Linked DNA regions of Homo sapiens. The protein of the gene in region 1 purifies or fractionates together with the protein of each later gene. This does not show direct contact. Each region holds a gene or a part of one and is shown on either strand. Other genes may lie near its edges.

Evidence for each region.
Region 2: the proteins of ACOX3 (region 1) and HERC3 purify together in Homo sapiens (affinity purification with mass spectrometry; 2 studies listed by BioGRID and IntAct, with this or other methods). This does not show direct contact.

The regions. Positions count from the first base shown.
Region 1 is NC_000004.12:8,388,724-8,397,795, reverse strand, and holds part of ACOX3 (peroxisomal acyl-coenzyme A oxidase 3), read left to right. Parts: intron 1-676; coding exon 677-859; intron 860-3,053; coding exon 3,054-3,176; intron 3,177-5,342; coding exon 5,343-5,463; intron 5,464-8,061; coding exon 8,062-8,184; intron 8,185-8,509; coding exon 8,510-8,623; intron 8,624-9,072. UniProt on the Homo sapiens protein: Oxidizes the CoA-esters of 2-methyl-branched fatty acids.
Region 2 is NC_000004.12:88,650,004-88,659,075, forward strand, and holds part of HERC3 (probable E3 ubiquitin-protein ligase HERC3), read left to right. Parts: intron 1-2,008; coding exon 2,009-2,085; intron 2,086-2,865; coding exon 2,866-3,087; intron 3,088-4,038; coding exon 4,039-4,130; intron 4,131-5,170; coding exon 5,171-5,301; intron 5,302-5,871; coding exon 5,872-6,032; coding exon of another isoform or gene 6,033-6,070; exon of another isoform or gene 6,071-7,431; intron 7,432-8,411; coding exon 8,412-8,488; intron 8,489-9,072. UniProt on the Homo sapiens protein: E3 ubiquitin-protein ligase which accepts ubiquitin from an E2 ubiquitin-conjugating enzyme in the form of a thioester and then directly transfers the ubiquitin to targeted substrates.

The DNA.
Region 1 (9,072 bases):
CCTTGGAAGAAGGACCTAGATGGTCAGAGGAGTGGCCCGATGGGGCAGCACGGGGCAGGGCAGGAAGGACGGTCAGATCACGTGGCAAGGGCTGTAGATTAGATGTGCCCACCGCAGCCTGGACAGGCCTTAGCAACAGCCTCTGCTGACGCCGCTGATGCGTGCGAGGAGATAGTGGACGGAAGATTCCAGCTAGACGCACGTAAAGGAACTGCCTGTTCACAGGCACACAAGGATCAAGAGGTGTCCGTGAAACCCCCTGGAAAGGCTGCCTGTAATGGACTCCGCCCCTGCCCTCTGGCAGTACAGGCCACATCTGATTCTTGCCAAGGTTAAAGGTGGGCCTTGGAATCTCCAGGCAGATGGTTTGCAAGTCCCCACAGTGGGAGCACCCTCACCCAGCGCTGTCATACCATTCCCTCTGCTAGGACTGTACCTTCTCCAGGCAGCTGGGTGTCCCCTCCCTGGCACCCCCATTCCATCCACGGTTCATCAGTGACATCTCTACCCGCCTGCCGCACCGTCCTGTGTCTTGGGCGCCCTGGGGATGGGGCCTGGGCAGGTGGGCACAGGTCTACTTTGGATGAACAAACGAGGGCACCTTCGCCTCTGAGCCACTCTGCCCAAGGTGGCCGCGCAGCCGGGCTTGAGCTTATCATCTGTGTCCCTCCCGTAGGACGTCAGGCAGCGCTTTGGAGCGTCCCTGGGGAGCCTGTCCTCGGGCCGGGTCTCCATCGTGAGCCTGGCCATCCTTAACCTAAAGCTGGCCGTGGCCATCGCTCTTCGCTTCTCAGCCACTCGGCGTCAGTTTGGACCCACAGAGGAGGAGGAAATACCAGTGCTTGAGTATCCAATGCAGGTATGAGGTTTTCAAGCATCCTTTCACTGTCTCTCTATTTTATATGCAAATTCACTTCTTTTACATAGTTGCCGTTTGGTTACTGGGAGTTGATCAAAGCTCTTAAGGCAATTAACAGGATGATTAGTTAGCGGGAGTGCGGCATCTCAGGCCGCAAGGCTTCCAGCAAATGGTTTTTAATTTAAAAAGAGTAGATACGAAGTAGCCAAAAAAGGAAGATGGAAAGAAGCAAGTCTTTTTTTTTTTTTTTTTTTTTTCCCAGACGGAGCCTTGCTCTGTCACCAAGGCTGGAGTGCAGTGGGCATGATCTTGGCTCACTGCAACCTCCGCCTCCCAGGTTCAAGTGATTCTCGTGTCTCAGCCTCCCGAGTAGCTGGGATTATGGGCATGCACCACCATGCCCGGCTAATTTTTGTATTGTTAGTAGAGACAGGGTTCTGCTGTTTTGGCCAGGCCGGTCTCGAACTCCTGACCTCCAGTGATCCACCTGCCTCAGCCTCCCAAAGTGCTGGGATTATGGGCATGAGTCACTGTGCCCGGCCAGAAAGAAGCAAGGATGGGGCGGCTCTGGGAGGTGGGTGTGTGCACGGCCGCACGTTCAGGTGAGGCCGCCACAGCTTGGCGGGTAGTGGCCTTGCACGCCCTGTGCACACTCTTTGACACTTTCATCCCATCCCTAAGAAATGATTCCTGGCAGGTGATCTGGAAGAAGCAGCAGCTGAGCGTGCAGCCCTGTTCACTGTGATGGCATTTAGAACAGTGGCGTGGGCACAGAGCGTTGGCCCTACACGTCCCCAGAGATGGGGCAGCTGTTGACATGCACAGATGCAGCCCAGGCAGCAGCGTGGAAAAGCACAGACATTGTTACATGGAAGGGGGATGAACTGTCACAGCGAACGTGCCCTGTGCTCTGGGTTTGGTCTTCACAGCTAAGAGGGTTGGGCTTAGTCCCACTTTACAGGTGAGAGAACTGAGGATCAAATAAGAAATCCAGTTAAAGTGCACAGGCTAACTCAGGCCCAGGTCCCAGGCCAAGCTGTGCATGAATAAAGGTAGATTTGGGTGAAACTTCCAGGAAATTGTAACAGAATTGCAGTTGTTTCTGTCCACATCCTTTGACCAGGGCTATGAGCCTGTTTAGTAAGTGTTGCCATTCATGCCTGTGTGGCACCCATCCCCTCCCGTGTGTGGTCACAGCACTCTGGGTGCCAAGGGCAGCTCGGCGGTCAAGAGAGCGCACTGGGGCCACCATGCCTGGCCTTACCACCAAGGTCCACCCCCAGCTGGCTGTGTGCCCCCAGGCAAGGTCCTTAGCCTTTCTGTGCTCTTGCTTTATCATTTGTAAGTTAGAACTGATGATAAAACTTCTTCCTAGGATCAGTGTGAGGATTAACAAAGTTAGGGCATGGAGGCAGCTGGCGCCATGTCTGCTCAGCACTCTTGACACGTTAGACCATGGTGGTGATGGCGGTTTCCTCAGGATCCTCTCAGGCTTGTCCTGCCATGTACCCAGCCACCCACCCACCCATCCATGCATCCCCCCACCTGTCCACGCATCCCCCCACCTGTCCACGCATCCACCCACCCATCCATCTACCCATCTACGGATTCATCCATCCACCCACCCACACATCCACCTACCCACCACCCACCATCCATGCATCCATCCACCCACCCACCCACCCCCCCATCCAACAATAGGTGGACCCTATCCTGTTTCAGACAAAGTGAAAAAGACATGCACTCAGCCTTTCGAGGGGCTGCCAGCTCTGTGTGGGCCTCAGCTTTCCCATCTGTCCCAGGGTGACGGCCTCATCCTCACAGGCTCATGCTGTCAGCCAGTCAGTCCGTGTGCCGGGGAGTTGGCCCCTAGCAGTGCTGCCTTCTTAATTCACAGATAGACTGGCACTTTGTTCTGTAGTGACTTTGATGGGACAGCTGTGAATAGCGGCCATTTAGCGAATTGCGTTTGAGCTTGTCTGTCAAGGGCTATGGGTGAAAGCCGAACTGGCTGAGTTGAGAGCGTGTCAGGGTGAAGGCTTTCTGATGTGCCGGGAAGACATGTGAAGACCTTCAGCGCTAGTGGGTGTGTGGCCCTGACGGCCTCTCCCTGCACTGGCTTTCATGGTCCCTGGGATGGGCTGCCCTTCATGGGAACCACGATGTGTTCACGCAGGTGTCTTGTCTGTTCTAGCAATGGCGCTTGCTTCCATATCTGGCAGCTGTCTACGCCTTAGACCATTTCTCCAAGTCGCTCTTCCTGGACCTGGTGGAGCTCCAGCGAGGACTTGCATCGGGAGACCGCAGCGCCAGACAGGTGAGGTGGTGTCTGCTTCCTCAGCAGCATCGTTTAAATCTCACACGGTTGGAGCAGCATAGATTCAACCTTCATTTCAAAGCAAAATCAGTCCTTTGATTTGCGAGGACAGAGCATTCCTCCAGTTGTTCCCACCCACTCGGAGCTCTTGGCCTCTGCCGCGATTGAACGGGCTGGGCACGCGTCCACACCCCTGCCTCTCAAGGATGTGCTGACACGACTCCCGGTTCCAGTCTGTGAGTTCAGCTGTTGGTCTCCTTTTGAGAACATGACGGTTTTGCAAAATCCACGTTACCCGCCCCTCAGTGGATTTCATGGTTCTGAGCCTTTTGTAAACAGCTGCACAAAGGTCTGAATCCCACTGACTGGATTTGAGTTGACAGTCAGAGGATTTGTGCCAGAAACGAGCGTGCAAATCCCGAGATCAGCCTCGGCATAAAGAGACATCGGGAACGGATTTCTTTGTAGATGATTATGAACTGATTTTCCATTGTCCCTCCTGCTGCCTCCTGAGCAAGAGTGAAATGTGAATCAAAAGAAATAACCGTGTTTGAAAGCAGAGGAGAAACGCCACAGATTGCTGTTATGTACAACATCAGAAAAAGCCTGTATCTAATTAGCATATCTTGAAATATTATCGGTGTCCACATTCACGGCAGATGATGGCGAAGGGATGACCTGCAGGATTGATGGCAGAGCAAACCCCAGGCCTGGAGGCCTGAGGAGGGAGCGCTTCTGACCACTAAAGGGGTTAAGCCTGTGTTTTCCCTGGAGCGTGAGTCAGTGGAGCTTTTGCCAGCTGACACTTGCATTGTTCTCCTGTGAATAATGTTGTAAAGGGTGACCAGGCTGATTCTTTCTGAAACTCAGTGGTTTAACCCAGGCAGAGGAGGGCCTCAGCTCAGCCCCTTATGTGAAGTTGAAAACACTCATAAAATGGGTCACTGGACTTAGCATGCGTGTGTGTGTGTGTGTGTGTGTGCGTGTGTGTGTGTGTGTGTGTGCGTGTGTGTGTCTTCCTCTTAATTGTTTTTCCTTTTTAATTGTCTTTCTTTTTTAAAATTAAAAATTCTTCTTTTACTCTGAATCAGTCTCTTAAGTTTTTGTTTGTTTGTTTGTTTGTTTGTTTTTGAGACGGAGTCTCGCTCTGTTGCCCAGGCTGGAGTGCAGTGGTGCGATCTTGGCTCACTGCAATTTCTGCCTCCTGGGTTCAAGCAATTCTCTTGCCTCAGCCTCCCAGACTAGCTGGGACTACAGGTGCCCGCCACCACACCTGGCTAATTTTTTTTATTTTTCAGTAGAGACAGGGTGTCACCATGTTGCCCAGGCTGTTCTCAGACTCCTGAGCTCAACTGATCTGCCCGCCTCGGCCTCTCAAAGTGCTGGCATTATAGGCGTGAGCCACTGTGCCTGGCCCAGCCTCTTAAGTTTTCATCATTAGATATCAAGCAGAAGCAAAGGAGTCTTCTTTCTTTTTTTTTTCCCCTTAAAAAAAAGCCTGCAGCACCTGCTATTCCCAGGCGGTCTCCCATCCAAATACTAACCACGCCCGACCCTGCTTAGCTTCACGAGATCAGGCTCATTCAGGGTAGTTTGGCCATGGACAGCAAAGGAGTCTCAATAAAACATGTTAGGCCTGAGGGAGGCACGGTGAGCCCCCACACAGAGCAGACCATCAGTTACCGAGGCGCTTGCAGCCTTCTGGGAATGGACTGGTCCCGGCCCTTCCCTGTCCTGGGAGCGAGCACTGTCTGCGGTGCTGAGTCTGGTTCCCTGGCCTTTCTTCATGGTTTCGCTGCAAACAATTGCAACCTTCCATGGTGTGTCATTCACTTTGACGTTTGTGAACTTTATATAAAGTGGGCCATGACGCACATTCTTCTGCAGTTTGCTTCTGGGACCCGTGTTAGGGCCCTGAGAGCTATTTGCTGTGTAGAGCTGTGTTTTCATTGTTGTGAAATGGTATGAGCGTACCACAGTGTATCCATACTTGGATAAAGACCCTTTTTTATTTCTAATTACAATTAGGTTTCCTCTTCTGTCATTTTCGGGATGTCTTGTATTAGACTAGAGGTGATATGGTGGTTTGATGCTATTGCTGACTTATGACTTTTTGGTGTCTAAAGTCTCTTTTCACCTGTTCTTGTTGGATTCCCTCACCCAAAGGCAGAGCTTGGACGTGAGATCCACGCCCTGGCATCGGCCAGCAAGCCCCTGGCCTCGTGGACCACCCAGCAAGGAATTCAGGAATGCCGGGAGGCGTGTGGAGGACACGGCTATCTGGCCAGTAGGTTTTGGAGAAGCGCATGGTGGTTTCCTGTCCTTAGCCCTGCTGTTTGACTCTAGACCAGGGGTCGGCAGACTGCGGCCTGAGGACCAAATCCAGCCTGCCACCTGTTTTTGCAAATAAAGTTTTATTGGAACACAGCCAGCCACCCCCGTTCATTTGCACATTTCCTGCAGCTGTTTTCGCACTGCAAGGGCAGAGATGAGTAATCGCAGCTGTGACAGAGACCATGTGGCTTACAGAGCTGAAAATATTTACTCTCTGGTCCATTGCAGAACAAGTTTGCCAACCCCTGCCCTAGATAGATCCCACTGCTTTCAGATGCCTGATGCTTCTTGGCCAAAATATAGGCAGAGAGCAGCTGATCTGCTCATTTGAATTTTAACTATTTGGTTAACAGCTTGGTAGTAAACTAGCACCATGTTTTGTTTGAATAGAAAATTCTTACACTTAGATAAAGAGTTAGTTATATCGGCATTGATGATGACTGAGGCAGCTGTTATATGGTTAAGAGCGGAGGCCACCAGCTTGCCTGGGATTGAGTCCTGGCTCCATCTAACAGCCTGGTAACTGTGGGCAGGTTGCTTAACCTCACTGTGCTCAGTTTTCTTATTTTTAAAGTGGGGGTGATAATAGTGTACCCACAACATAGGTTCTTGCCAGAATTAAGTGAATTACCACGTATGAAGTGTAAGCATGGTATCTGGCATGTAGTGCGTGCCCAATGACTTTTTTATTTGCTAATGCTGTTATTATTAGAATTATCATCAGCATTATTTACAGCTTACCTGCAAAACTTCCCGTGTGCTAATCTTAAATAATTAACTGGCAAAAACTGGTTGCTCAAAGAAGGCCATGTACACACTCAAAACAGCCACAGCATCAGCAAAACTCTCTTGCCCTCCAGGAGCACTTGGTCCTTGCCAAGTTTGTGAGAGTTTTTGTGATGCTCTATCTAGAACTACACACACACTTTCAGCGATCATCCGCCCACCACTGCAGTTCTAACTCGCACCTGTTCCAGCATGGGCTGTTAGCAACGTGGCCCCTCACTCCCACCACAATCTGTCTTTGTCACTTACTGACATGCGGGTAGCCATGGCTGTACACAAGTTACTCATTTGCATGCTTTGTCCTCTGCGCAATGCCCTTAGTAGTTTTTGTCTTTGTAACTCATCGGGATTCTATAAATAGTTGAATAAGGAAATTGAATCTTGCAGTACTGCAGACAACAAAGATGATGGAATCAAGATTAATCATATACATATACATATACATATACATATACATATACATATACACATACATATACATATACACATACATATACATATGCTGGGATTGAGACCAATATGACCGAGGCTCCATCTAGGTTTAGAAAATCAATTGCAAATGTTTCTGCTGAGGCCTCTCCCAGCTCTTGTTCAGTGGCCAACCTGTTACGTGGCAGGAAGCTCGTGGCATGATTTGACAGTAAGTCAGGAGAAAATCAGGTGTTCTAGGTGATCACAAGGCTAATCACAAGCGTGTTGGCAGTATGGCTGCAATAGGACTCCTTTCATGCTCTCAGGATCCATCAGTCACAGTACGTGAGTGTGAGAAGTCAGCTCCACTCCCTTCCTGCTAGGCCCATCCCAGCCTCACATTCAGAGAACACTTTCCATCACAGTAGGCAGGCTCAAGTGTGTGAGGGTCTGGAAAGCAAGCCTGACAACATATGTGAAGGCATCCAGCTAACTGATAGGAAAGACAAAAAACAGTTATCTTGAAATTTCCTGTGTTAAAAGAAGAGTTCATTCAGTTATGGACGGAAGAAGGGTAGCCCTGGGGGCATCAGCTCGCTGAGATGGCTCCCTCCTATCAGCAACCCCATGCCAGGGGAGGCTCTGCAGGGCTTGCTGACAGCAGTGAGGAGCTGGAGGTGGGATATGAAGCACAGGTGGCAGTTCTTTGTGTCTGGTCAAGCTGAGTTCAGGGCTTTTTTTTTTTTGGTCAGAGTCTTGCCCTGTCCCGGAGGCTGGAGTACAGTGGCATGACCATGGCTTACTTTTGCCTCAAATGCCTGGGCTCTTAAGCAATCCTCCCACCTCAGCCTCCTGGGTAGCTGGGACTAAAGGTGCGTGCCACTATGCCCAGCTAATTTTTTTTTTCATTTTTTATAGAGATAGGGTCTCACTATGTTGCCCAGGCTGGTCTCAAACTCATGGCTTTTTTTGTTGTTGTTGTTGTTGAGACAGGGTCTTGCTCTGTCACCCGGGCTGGAGTGCAGTTGCGCAATCTCGGCTCACTGCAACCTCCGCCTCCCAGGCTCAAGCGATTCTCCTGCCTCAGCCTCCCGAGTAGCTGAGATTACAGGCACACACCACCACACCTGGCTATTTTTGTATTTTTAGTAGAGGTGGGTTTCACCATGTTGGTCAGGCTGGTCTTGAACACCTGGCTTCAAGTGATCCACCCGCCTCGGCCCCCCAAAGTGCTGCCATTACAGGTGTGAGCCACCGCACCCAGCCTCTTAAGGCTTTTTAAATTCTCACATAGTGACAGGCTGCTTCTCAAATATGCGTCTTAAATGATGGTACTATTGTGGCTTTGTTGCAGTGAACCGGTTGGGTGTCCTTAGAGATGACAACGATCCCAACTGCACATACGAAGGTGACAACAACATCCTGCTGCAGCAGACAAGCAACTATTTGCTGGGTCTCCTGGCACACCAGGTCCACGGTGAGGCTCTGCTGCACACTGGTGGGGGCGCTGGAACCCAACTGGGGCAGGGGTGGGTTCTCCTGGCCTCACTGATTCAGCTGTTCTGTGAATGCATCCTAGGTTTGCAGAAGGAAAGAAATGTTATTAGATAGTGCCGACCAACTCCCCAAGGCATGGGCAAAGGCTGGGGTGGGGAGGGTCCTTGAGACCCAGACCCTCGCCTGTGGGTCTGTGGCCGTCGGGTCCTCTGGACACTCTCTGTGCTTTGGGGTGCCCCCAGCTTGGGGTTCCCAATGGTTTGGGTTCCTGTCTTCCACCAAAGTCACTGGAATGTGTGTCCTAGATGGAGCTTGCTTCCGCAGTCCGCTGAAGTCAGTGGACTTTCTGGACGCCTATCCCGGCATCCTTGACCAGAAGTTTGAGGTCTCCAGTGTTGCCGACTGCTTGGACTCTGCAGGTAAACACACAGGTGGAGGGCTCCCCTGGCCTCCTGATTTCCTGTCATTCCCACCAGGAAACGCACCGTGCCTCGGTGAGGGGACCCTTGGCAGTTCCAGCCGGGGCAGCAGTGGTGGTGGGAGGCCCCGCATGCAGCTTGTCCTGGGCTGGCTCATGGACTATCTCTTTGTGCCTGACGCCGAGTTAGGCGCTGACTCCACAGATGAATTGAAGGATGCCCACTTGCCACCTTATACCTTGCCTCTTGCCTTTCCCTCCCATAGGATAAAGGGCGTGAGAGGCCACCTGGCCTGGTCTCTGTCCACTAAGCAGCCTCTGCCCCCTGCCCTGGTGCCTGGGCTGCTGCTGTCCCTGGGCCCTCCCAGCCACCTCACCTGTCAGTCTTCCCCACTCCCAGGCCCTGCTGGCTCCCCAAACAGCAGATGCCCCTTCCCGCCCTGGCGCACC
Region 2 (9,072 bases), about 80 Mb from region 1:
GAAGGTTTTCAAATGTCAGTCGTTTTAAATGCTATTTCCTGCTGTTGATTTGTTAGACTCCTTGTTTTTCTTCTGTTTTCTTCATTTAATTGCTATTTCCTTTGCACCACTCCTGTGCCTTATACTATTAAAACACTTGTCACAAAAGTTGCAATTATTTATAGAAGTGTCTGTCTCTGTTTCAAAAATGTGAGTCGGTTGGGAACTGTACTTTATTTATTCTAGTAGCCTGTTTGCTTGCTGAGTGCCTGGCAGTCGATAAATGTTTGAATAAAAAAGACATCTTTCACATCGTAGGCTTATTAACCTTCAACTGAAAATTGCAAGTCTGAATTACTCAATTAAGTACTTTAAAATAGAATCACAAAGCTGACCTGTTACTCTGATAGGCCAAATCACTTTAAGCATTACAAACAGCTAAAATACCAGATATACATAGATTCTTTAATGCAAAAATGTTAATACAGTAGGTTTTGAGTCTCTTAAAGATTCACTTAAATCTAAACCTTAGATGATTTAGCTAAGTATCTAATAGTTGCCACTAAGAGAACATCCCAAATATTGAAGTTACTTTCAAATGGACTTTTTAGTGGTGGTGTCTCAGTTTGTTGAAGGTTCTTAATGATCAAAGAGCTGCCATTTTATTTCCTTTATTCAATTCTTACTCCTTTGTGCTACAGGTGTTCCACATACCACTACTATAGTACACATTCTTTGTAATTGTTTATTTAATATCTGTTTTTACTACAAAGATGTGAGCTATTAATGGCAGGATAATTGGATGATTTATTTTAGCATCACCATTGCTAGGAGTGCCTATCACATACATTGCTGAGTACAAATTTAATAAATGGCCTCTCCTCCTCTGCCTAATTATCGTCCCCTTTAAAGAACAGCATATTCTTCTTCCTCTTCTTTTTTGCCCTTGTTAGATTTTTGTCTCTTTAATCAAAAGTTGTGTTAAATAAGAGGACCATGGAGGTAAGAGTGATTTGATTCAGTTCTTGATTTAGGACAGGTAATGTCTTAGATTCATTTCTTCCAAAAATTAATTTAATTTTGTGGGGAGAGGAAGAGTGGCAGTAAGAAAAAAGAAGTGCTAGATGTTATGTTGTGTGTAATACTAGGGAAAATGTTTATAACATTAATGGCAAAAATATTTCATTTGTTGATGACCAAAACACAATTAAGGTTTTTAACGGCATTTCATTTTTAAAAATGAAGTAATCTGTTCTACAGTAATAGCTTAATATTCATTATTCATGTTCAAATTATGGATGACTTCCAAGACTTTGATTTGTATATAGTTTTCTATTATAAGTTAATTGAAATAAATTCACTAATTTATACCTTTGTATTGTGGAAAGTAACATAGCTTTGATGTCAAACAAGCCTTGGATTCCAATACTGGCTCTTTTACTTGTAAGGTGAATGACCTTGGGCAGGTTAACTTTTCTAAGCCTCAGTTTCCTAACTTAAAAATTACTTACTATGTACCTTACAGGGTTATGGGGAGGATAGAAGGAGACAAGTAGGTAAAATACAGTATGTGCTTGCACTGTATGGACTCCCTCTTCCCCACCTCAAGGGTACAATTTCTCTATTATCTGTCTTTGTTCTTCTGACCTGCTTCTTTTCTACAACTGATTGTGACAAGAGTAATGGTGATGGGGAATTGTTGAAGCAATTCTCTGCCTCAGCCTCCCGAGTAGCTGGGATTACAGGCATGTGCCACAACGCCCGGCTGATTTTTTTTGTATTTTTAGTAGAGATGGGGTTTCATCATATTGGCCAGGCTGGTCTCGAACTCCTGACCTCAGGTGATAAGCCCACCTTGGCCTCCCAAAGTGCTGAGATTACAGGCGTGAACCACTGTGCCTGGCCTTAAAAAGACTTTTAGGCAAGATGGTGTTATTTATTACTGACATTTTATTTAATTGGGAATATTTCTGATAATTGTGTTTGTGTGTGAATATCTATCTGAAAAAGAAAGCCTTTTCTGTTTTAGGTTAATACAAAAGCTGAACCAGCAAACAATATTACAAGTTTCCTGTGGCAACTGGCATTGCTTGGCTCTTGCGGCTGGTAAAGTAACATTAAACATATGCTAATGCTATGTTAATTTTGAAAACATTTCTCTTTGTCTTTTTGTGTGATATTATCTAACTGAAAACTTTGAATTAACTGGTTAGGGTCTATGCATTGCTGTTGGACAGTGACAATTCTCATATGGGCTTTGCATAGCTCATCCTTTTCTCAGGGTGTGGGTGATGAAGTAGGTGGTCATCATTGCTGCTCCAACTTTCACAGGGGAAGATAAGCAGGGGGCAGGACCATACCTAGGTGTTCTGAGCATGGAGGAGATTGATTTTTCTTAGCGACAGCCAACTCTCAAGCTACATTCCACTATCAAGCTCCCAAATGAATGAAAAAGAAGGAGTTGGAGAAACCTAAATAAATCTGCACTTCTGTGTCCTGCTTGATTATCTGCAGAGCAGACCAAGTGGTCATTGCTGGACCTCCCGAAGTCTTGGGTCTCATAGTCTTAGTGTGGTCAGAACTAGTGTGATCTTGCTTAAGCCTGGTAATTGGCCTGTCCGAAATTGAATTTACTTATACATTTAATATTTTCTGTGTATAAATTTTAATAGCCTTTGAAGGGCAGTAAGACTCAGCTTACCTCTCTGTTATATCACTTGGGAGTTTTGGTTTTGGCAGTCTGATAGCATGAAGTATCTCTGTTCCTTTGCTCTTGGGTGGGTTTGGTGTTGGGGGGCAACTGGCAAATGACCCTAATAACTAGATTATTTTTGTGTGTGGAGCTTGTATCATTTTATGGTAATACCAGTTATCCTGTTATTTCAGATGGCCAGTTCTTCACCTGGGGAAAGAACAGCCATGGGCAGCTTGGCTTAGGGAAGGAGTTCCCCTCCCAAGCCAGCCCACAGAGGGTGAGGTCCCTGGAGGGGATCCCACTGGCTCAGGTGGCTGCCGGAGGGGCTCACAGCTTTGCCCTGTCTCTCTCAGGAGCTGTTTTTGGCTGGGGGATGAATAATGCCGGGCAGCTAGGGCTCAGTGATGAAAAAGGTAGGTAAACCCTTCATATGTATGTATTTAGTTTAAAAGCACATTCATTTAACACATGCTTCTTGAGGATCTACTATGTGCTAGCCCCATGTGAGATACTAAGGGAGAAGCAGTGAACACAATAGAGAACATCCTCGTCTTAGTGGAGACTGTATTCTAGTGAGTAGAGGTGCAACAAAACCAGTAAATACACAGGATTTGAGAGTGCAGCTTCCTGCTTTACATAAGGTGGTGGGGAAGGGCCCCTCTGATAAGAAAATGTTTGAGCAGAACCTGTAGGAAATCAGGTGGGAGATGGGACATGTAAATGTCTGGGTGAAAAATGTTCCTGTCAGAGAGAACTGGGTGTGCAAAGGTGCTCATGTGGGAAGAGATGTAGTTGGAGAGAAGGGGAAGAGTAGCACAGCTGCAGGTCAGAGAAGTCGTGTAGACCCAGTTATGCAGGGCCCTGAGGGGCAGGGTGAGGATATAACTGGTTTTCTCAGTGAGAGGGGAAGACCCTGAGGGTTTGGAGGAGAAGCGTGATCCACTTTGGCTTTGGCTGTAGTGGGTCAAGGGGGAAGCTGGAAGACCAGCTTGGAGGTTGTGGGAGTAAAGTCAGATTTTAAACATATTTTGAAGATGAGGCCAGTTGGTTTTGTTCACTGTTGGATGTGTGGTTTGAAATAAAGGAACAGCTGGAAGGGCAAAATGACTGTTTCTGAAATGGGGAAAACCGTGTGTAGTAAAGTGAGCTGGAGAGTGGGCAGGGTTGGAGAGTGTAGGGAAACCATGAGGTAGGTTTTAGGTAAATTAAAACTGAGAAGTCTGTTGGATATCCAAGTACAGATGCAGGCAGGAAACTGAACATGCGTCAGGAATCCAGGAATCCAAAATTCATGCCAAGATAGTTGTGTATATTTCATCTCAAAGGCAAATGGTAGTGATATTCTGATATTTAATTTATTCTAGATCGAGAATCTCCATGCCATGTAAAACTCTTACGCACGCAAAAAGTTGTCTATATTAGTTGTGGAGAAGAACACACAGCAGTTCTCACAAAGGTAAGGAGCTCAGAGTATTTTACTTTGGTGCTGGGGATATGATGGGTGATTAGAATTGCTTGATTATGTTAGTGTAGTGATGGTGTGTGATTACAGTATTGTGGCTTGAACTTGAATGCTCTCTTTTATGTGGGTTTGTTGTTTTCCAAAGGAATAGAAAAAGACTACTTTTTTGTATGTCTCTGTTATCCTCTTTGGTAATCTTGTAGATTTTTCATATATATATATATATATATATATATATATATATATATACACACACACACATAATGTAGATTATATATATATACACACATATAATGTAGATTATATAAAAATGTAGATTATATATATAAATATAATGTATATATTTATATATATATAAATTCCTTGGTTCTTTATGGAACAAAGACAGCACTTTGTTATTTTTATTTGTTATTTTATGTATATATAATATATATAAAATGATGTCCTATGTTCCTTTAAAACAAGTCATTTAAATATGTAAAAAAGAAACAGCAATTTAATTAATGTTTTAAAATAATCATGTTTCTTTTGCTTCTAAATACATTCTAGAGAGAATGAAAATGTATTTTTATATTGAACAAATATTATTCTACGTTCACTTTGATAAAATGCCTTAACATTTATTTAAATACAGCTGTTAAAAAAACAGCTTACTTACCAAGGAATTTGTAGAGCACCTAATTTCTTACATGTGAATGATCATGTAAAATCATCTCATTTAGCCTAGCTCCTAGTTTCTCCTTTTTTAAAATTTTGCTTCCTAACACATCATTGTACTTTCAAACGATTTTAAAAATTTACAGAAGGCACACATTCCTTTGAGCATTGCTATCTTTGTTCCATAAAGATGCAGTCTGAAATTCCCTTTTTATTATTTTTCTATTTAATGAACATCCTTACAAAGTGATTTTGGCCAAGTGTCAAGTGAATGTAGTGCTCTTGTGCACATTGTTGTGATAGGCATTTTGTATACAGGGTTTAGAGGTATACCCTTAAAGATACAGTGAAGTCCTATGGTGTTTGTTCCTTGTTAGAGTGGAGGTGTGTTTACCTTTGGCGCTGGTTCCTGTGGGCAACTTGGACACGACTCCATGAATGATGAGGTTAACCCTAGAAGAGTTCTAGAGCTGATGGGTAGTGAAGTAACTCAAATTGCTTGTGGCAGGTGAGTGTTCCTCAAAGCTTGCTTGTATTCACTAGGACCCAGAAATTGGTCTTATCTTTGTAGTGATGAAGAATGTGATTATACCTAGTCACCGTCATTTTAAGAGATCTTAACTGCATGCACGCCTATGGTGAAATGTGGAGAAAGACCTTGATAGAGTGTGGCAAGGAAGGGTTTTAGATAAGCAGAGCAACACGGAGACATTAGGCTTCTTTTGGGATAAAGAGTAGCAGGATGTGGGGAAGGGATAAAGAAAGGAAAAGTGAGAGAGTCCCAAAGAACTTCTTGGAAATTTTTGCCTGAGTCTACCCTGCTTCTCTCTGTTCATCTTAGAGGCCACATGCAGTAGATCATTCAGCTCTTTCCTGACTTGCCACCCTCCTCATGATCTAGAGTGTTAGAGGATAGTATTATGGAGAGCAGCCGCTGCAAGAAGAGTCACGTGTTAACATGGGAAAGGCTCTATAGGAGCACCCTGTGCTGTGCACATGTGGAAGTTAAAAGTCAGAGTCAGAGTGTACATCCACATTAGTAGAAACTATGCTGATGAGTTAAATTATTTTTTCACAGACAACATACCCTAGCCTTCGTGCCTTCTTCTGGACTCATCTATGCATTTGGTTGTGGAGCAAGAGGTCAATTAGGAACTGGGCACACTTGTAATGTTAAGTGCCCATCTCCTGTCAAGGGTTACTGGGCTGCCCACAGTGGCCAGCTTTCAGCCCGAGCTGGTAAGAATGATTGTCTCTGGAATTTAAAGGTATTTTAAGTGATGAAAACAGTTGTTTACAGAATATGTATCTATTACTTACTTTGAGGTCTTTTGGAGGGAATGAAGATAAGGTATTTTTTAACATCAATTAATAATTTCTGTACTTACTATGCATGAAGCTGTAGAGTTGAGATCCTAGAGAATAAATAAAGCAGGAAATACTGTTGTGTTAGGCCGTTCTTGCATTGCTGTAAAGAGCACCTGAAACAGGGTGATTTATGAAGAAAAGAGTTTTAATTGGCTCACAGTTCTGCAGGCTCTACAGGGAGCATGATGCAGCCATCTGCTTGGCTTCTGGGGAGGCCTCAGGAATCTTACAGTCATGGCAGAAGGCAAAGAAGGAGCAGACACTTCACATGGCAGAAGCAGGAGCAAGAGGAAGAGTGGAGAGGAGGTGCCATACTTTTTACACCACCAGATCTCATGTGAACTCAGAGCAAGAGCTCACTTATCACCAAGGGGATGGCCCAAGCCATTCATGAGGGATCCGCCCTCATGATCTAAACACATACCACCATGCCTCACCTCCAACATTGGGATTACTGCAATTCAACATGAGTTTTGACCAGAACATACATTCAAACTATACCAGTTATTTTGTTTCCACAGACCTTGGTGGTGGTGTATACATTTTATTGTTGTTGCTAATAATGACAGTTCGCATGTATTGAATGCTTAATGACGTTTCATTACTATGCAAAGCACTCAAAATAATCTAAGAACTAGTTAGTGGTTATTATCCCCATGTTAGAGATAAGGGAACAAAGTCTTAAGGAGGTCAAGTAATTTGCCCAAGATCACATAGATTCTGGAGGCAGGATTTAAACCCAGGTCATTCTAAATCATGTGTACTATGTTACCTCTACTTTGCTGTTGGCATTTTGGTATATAACATGATGTGATTTCTTTTTAAGCCATTTTTTTTCTTCCCTTAAAAAATAGTTAAATAGCAGTCTTGGTTTCATTGGAAATCAAAGTCAGGCAGTCATTAATATTGAATGACTGCTTCACCTTGAAATAATAAATCTGAGGCTGAAATGGAGCTAGAGAATCATTAAAAGGAAGTGTAACTTATTAATTTTGATTTTGAAGTCGATAAAGTGACACACTTATGGCTTGATCAGGAATTTGTTTGAAACAGTAACCATCATAAGTTTTAGTACTGGATTATAAGAAACTCAAGGACACAGACAAACTCTTTTCCTTTTTGTAAACCTAGCATATAGCACAGGACCTGGCATGAACTTGTCACTCAGTAGACATTTTTGGAATGGATATATGAGCATCTGAAATGTAGTGCAACTTAAAATATAAATAAACAAGATTTTGTCTGGGTGATGTTCCCAGAAGCAAAAGAATGGCTTTGTGTCCTCTTCTCTGTAATTTGTAAATTCTTTTCTCCAAGACATTGTACTCATACGTGGAATACATTTATTTAGAAAGTTTACCAACTCAGGTGTTTTTTGGTTATTTCAAAACCACAAATTTTTGAAGTTGAATTATAACCTGACTTCCATGGTCCTAAATTTGTGCTTGGATGTTTGCCAAAATGATTTTATAACATAAGCAGGTAAATGTCAGTTATGTAAATGACATGGTTTTAGGAACCCTCTTGGTAATGTGGGAGCACAGAGGAAGGCATGGAGGAGTATTGTGGTTAGAGGAAGTTTGAGCTGTGCCTCGAAGGATGATTTGGAGTTAGCCAGGTGTAGAGGACTGTGAGGGAGTTGGTGTGAGCACCACCAAGGTGCAGTTCCAGAAGCACATTCAGGTTGTGCTCTCGGTGGGCACATTCATGGAGAATCCCATGTGCCAGGGGCAGCAGAGGGGGGAGGCACCGAGATGTGAAATAGTGTGGTGTATTAGAAATAAAGGCAACGTGGTAGTAGGAGAATGTCACCGTGGACACAGTGTGATGGGAGGTAAAGCAGGGAGCAGGAAACGGAGGTCCTTCCGTGGCAAGATTCGTCCTGACGGGGCCTGGGCCCACCACACTCACATGCTGAATTGTTACCATAAAGAATAGTGCCCATTTCAGATTTCAGGTCAGTGGCATGACAGAGTTAGAATGAAAAAGAGAAACTAGGTCAGGATTCACTGGCAGTTGGGGAGGGGCAGAAGAAGAGTTAGAGTGGAGGATACCATTTTATATATTTATTTTTAATTGAAGTAGAAACAGTCCTAGGCAGTGAGCCAGGGGAGAAGATTTCTTACTTCTGTGACACAATTAAAATGGATAGGTACCCACTCTGAAGTGTATTCTGCGACAGTAGAAAAGGGGATCAAGGAGAAACTTCAATTAATGAAAAATATGCTTTCGGAATTTTTTTTTTGACAGATCGCTTTAAATATCATATCGTTAAGCAGATCTTCTCTGGAGGAGACCAGACTTTTGTACTTTGCTCCAAATACGAGGTAAAATTTTTCTTGTGACTCTTATTTCCAGGAAGGAATAATAGTGAACCAACATTTCTTTTAACAAGTAATTACAACATAAAGAGCAATGTTACTCTTTGTTTCTACCAATCCTATGTTATTTTTAAAATAAGCAAACTAAATCTGGAAGAAGTTGTCTCCATTTGGCTCCCTTGAAGTGCCAACAATTCTCCTGGAATTATGGAGTTCTAATTTATAATTTGAAATTATTTATTTATATTTGTACTTGTTCCAGAAACTCTGTAAAGGATGCCTAGGGAGTTGGTGCTTACTTTGGCATTATTTGATTTTCCATTTCTTTTCTTCCCTGTTAAGTGGCAACAAATGCTAGGTGTTTGAGAACTTGGTGGGTTTCTTTGTTTGATGTGATTGAGTATATATATGTATGTAAGAGGTACCACAATTTTCAGATGTATTTTATTATTTGTAATCTGCTTATGACATGACACCAAAATTTCCCTTCCATTGTCTCCTGCATCACTATAGTGGATAAAGACACTGTGACATTGTCTTTCTGCCTGAAGGTAGAGTGTGGATCCAGGTTTCTGTGACAGGGCTCGAAT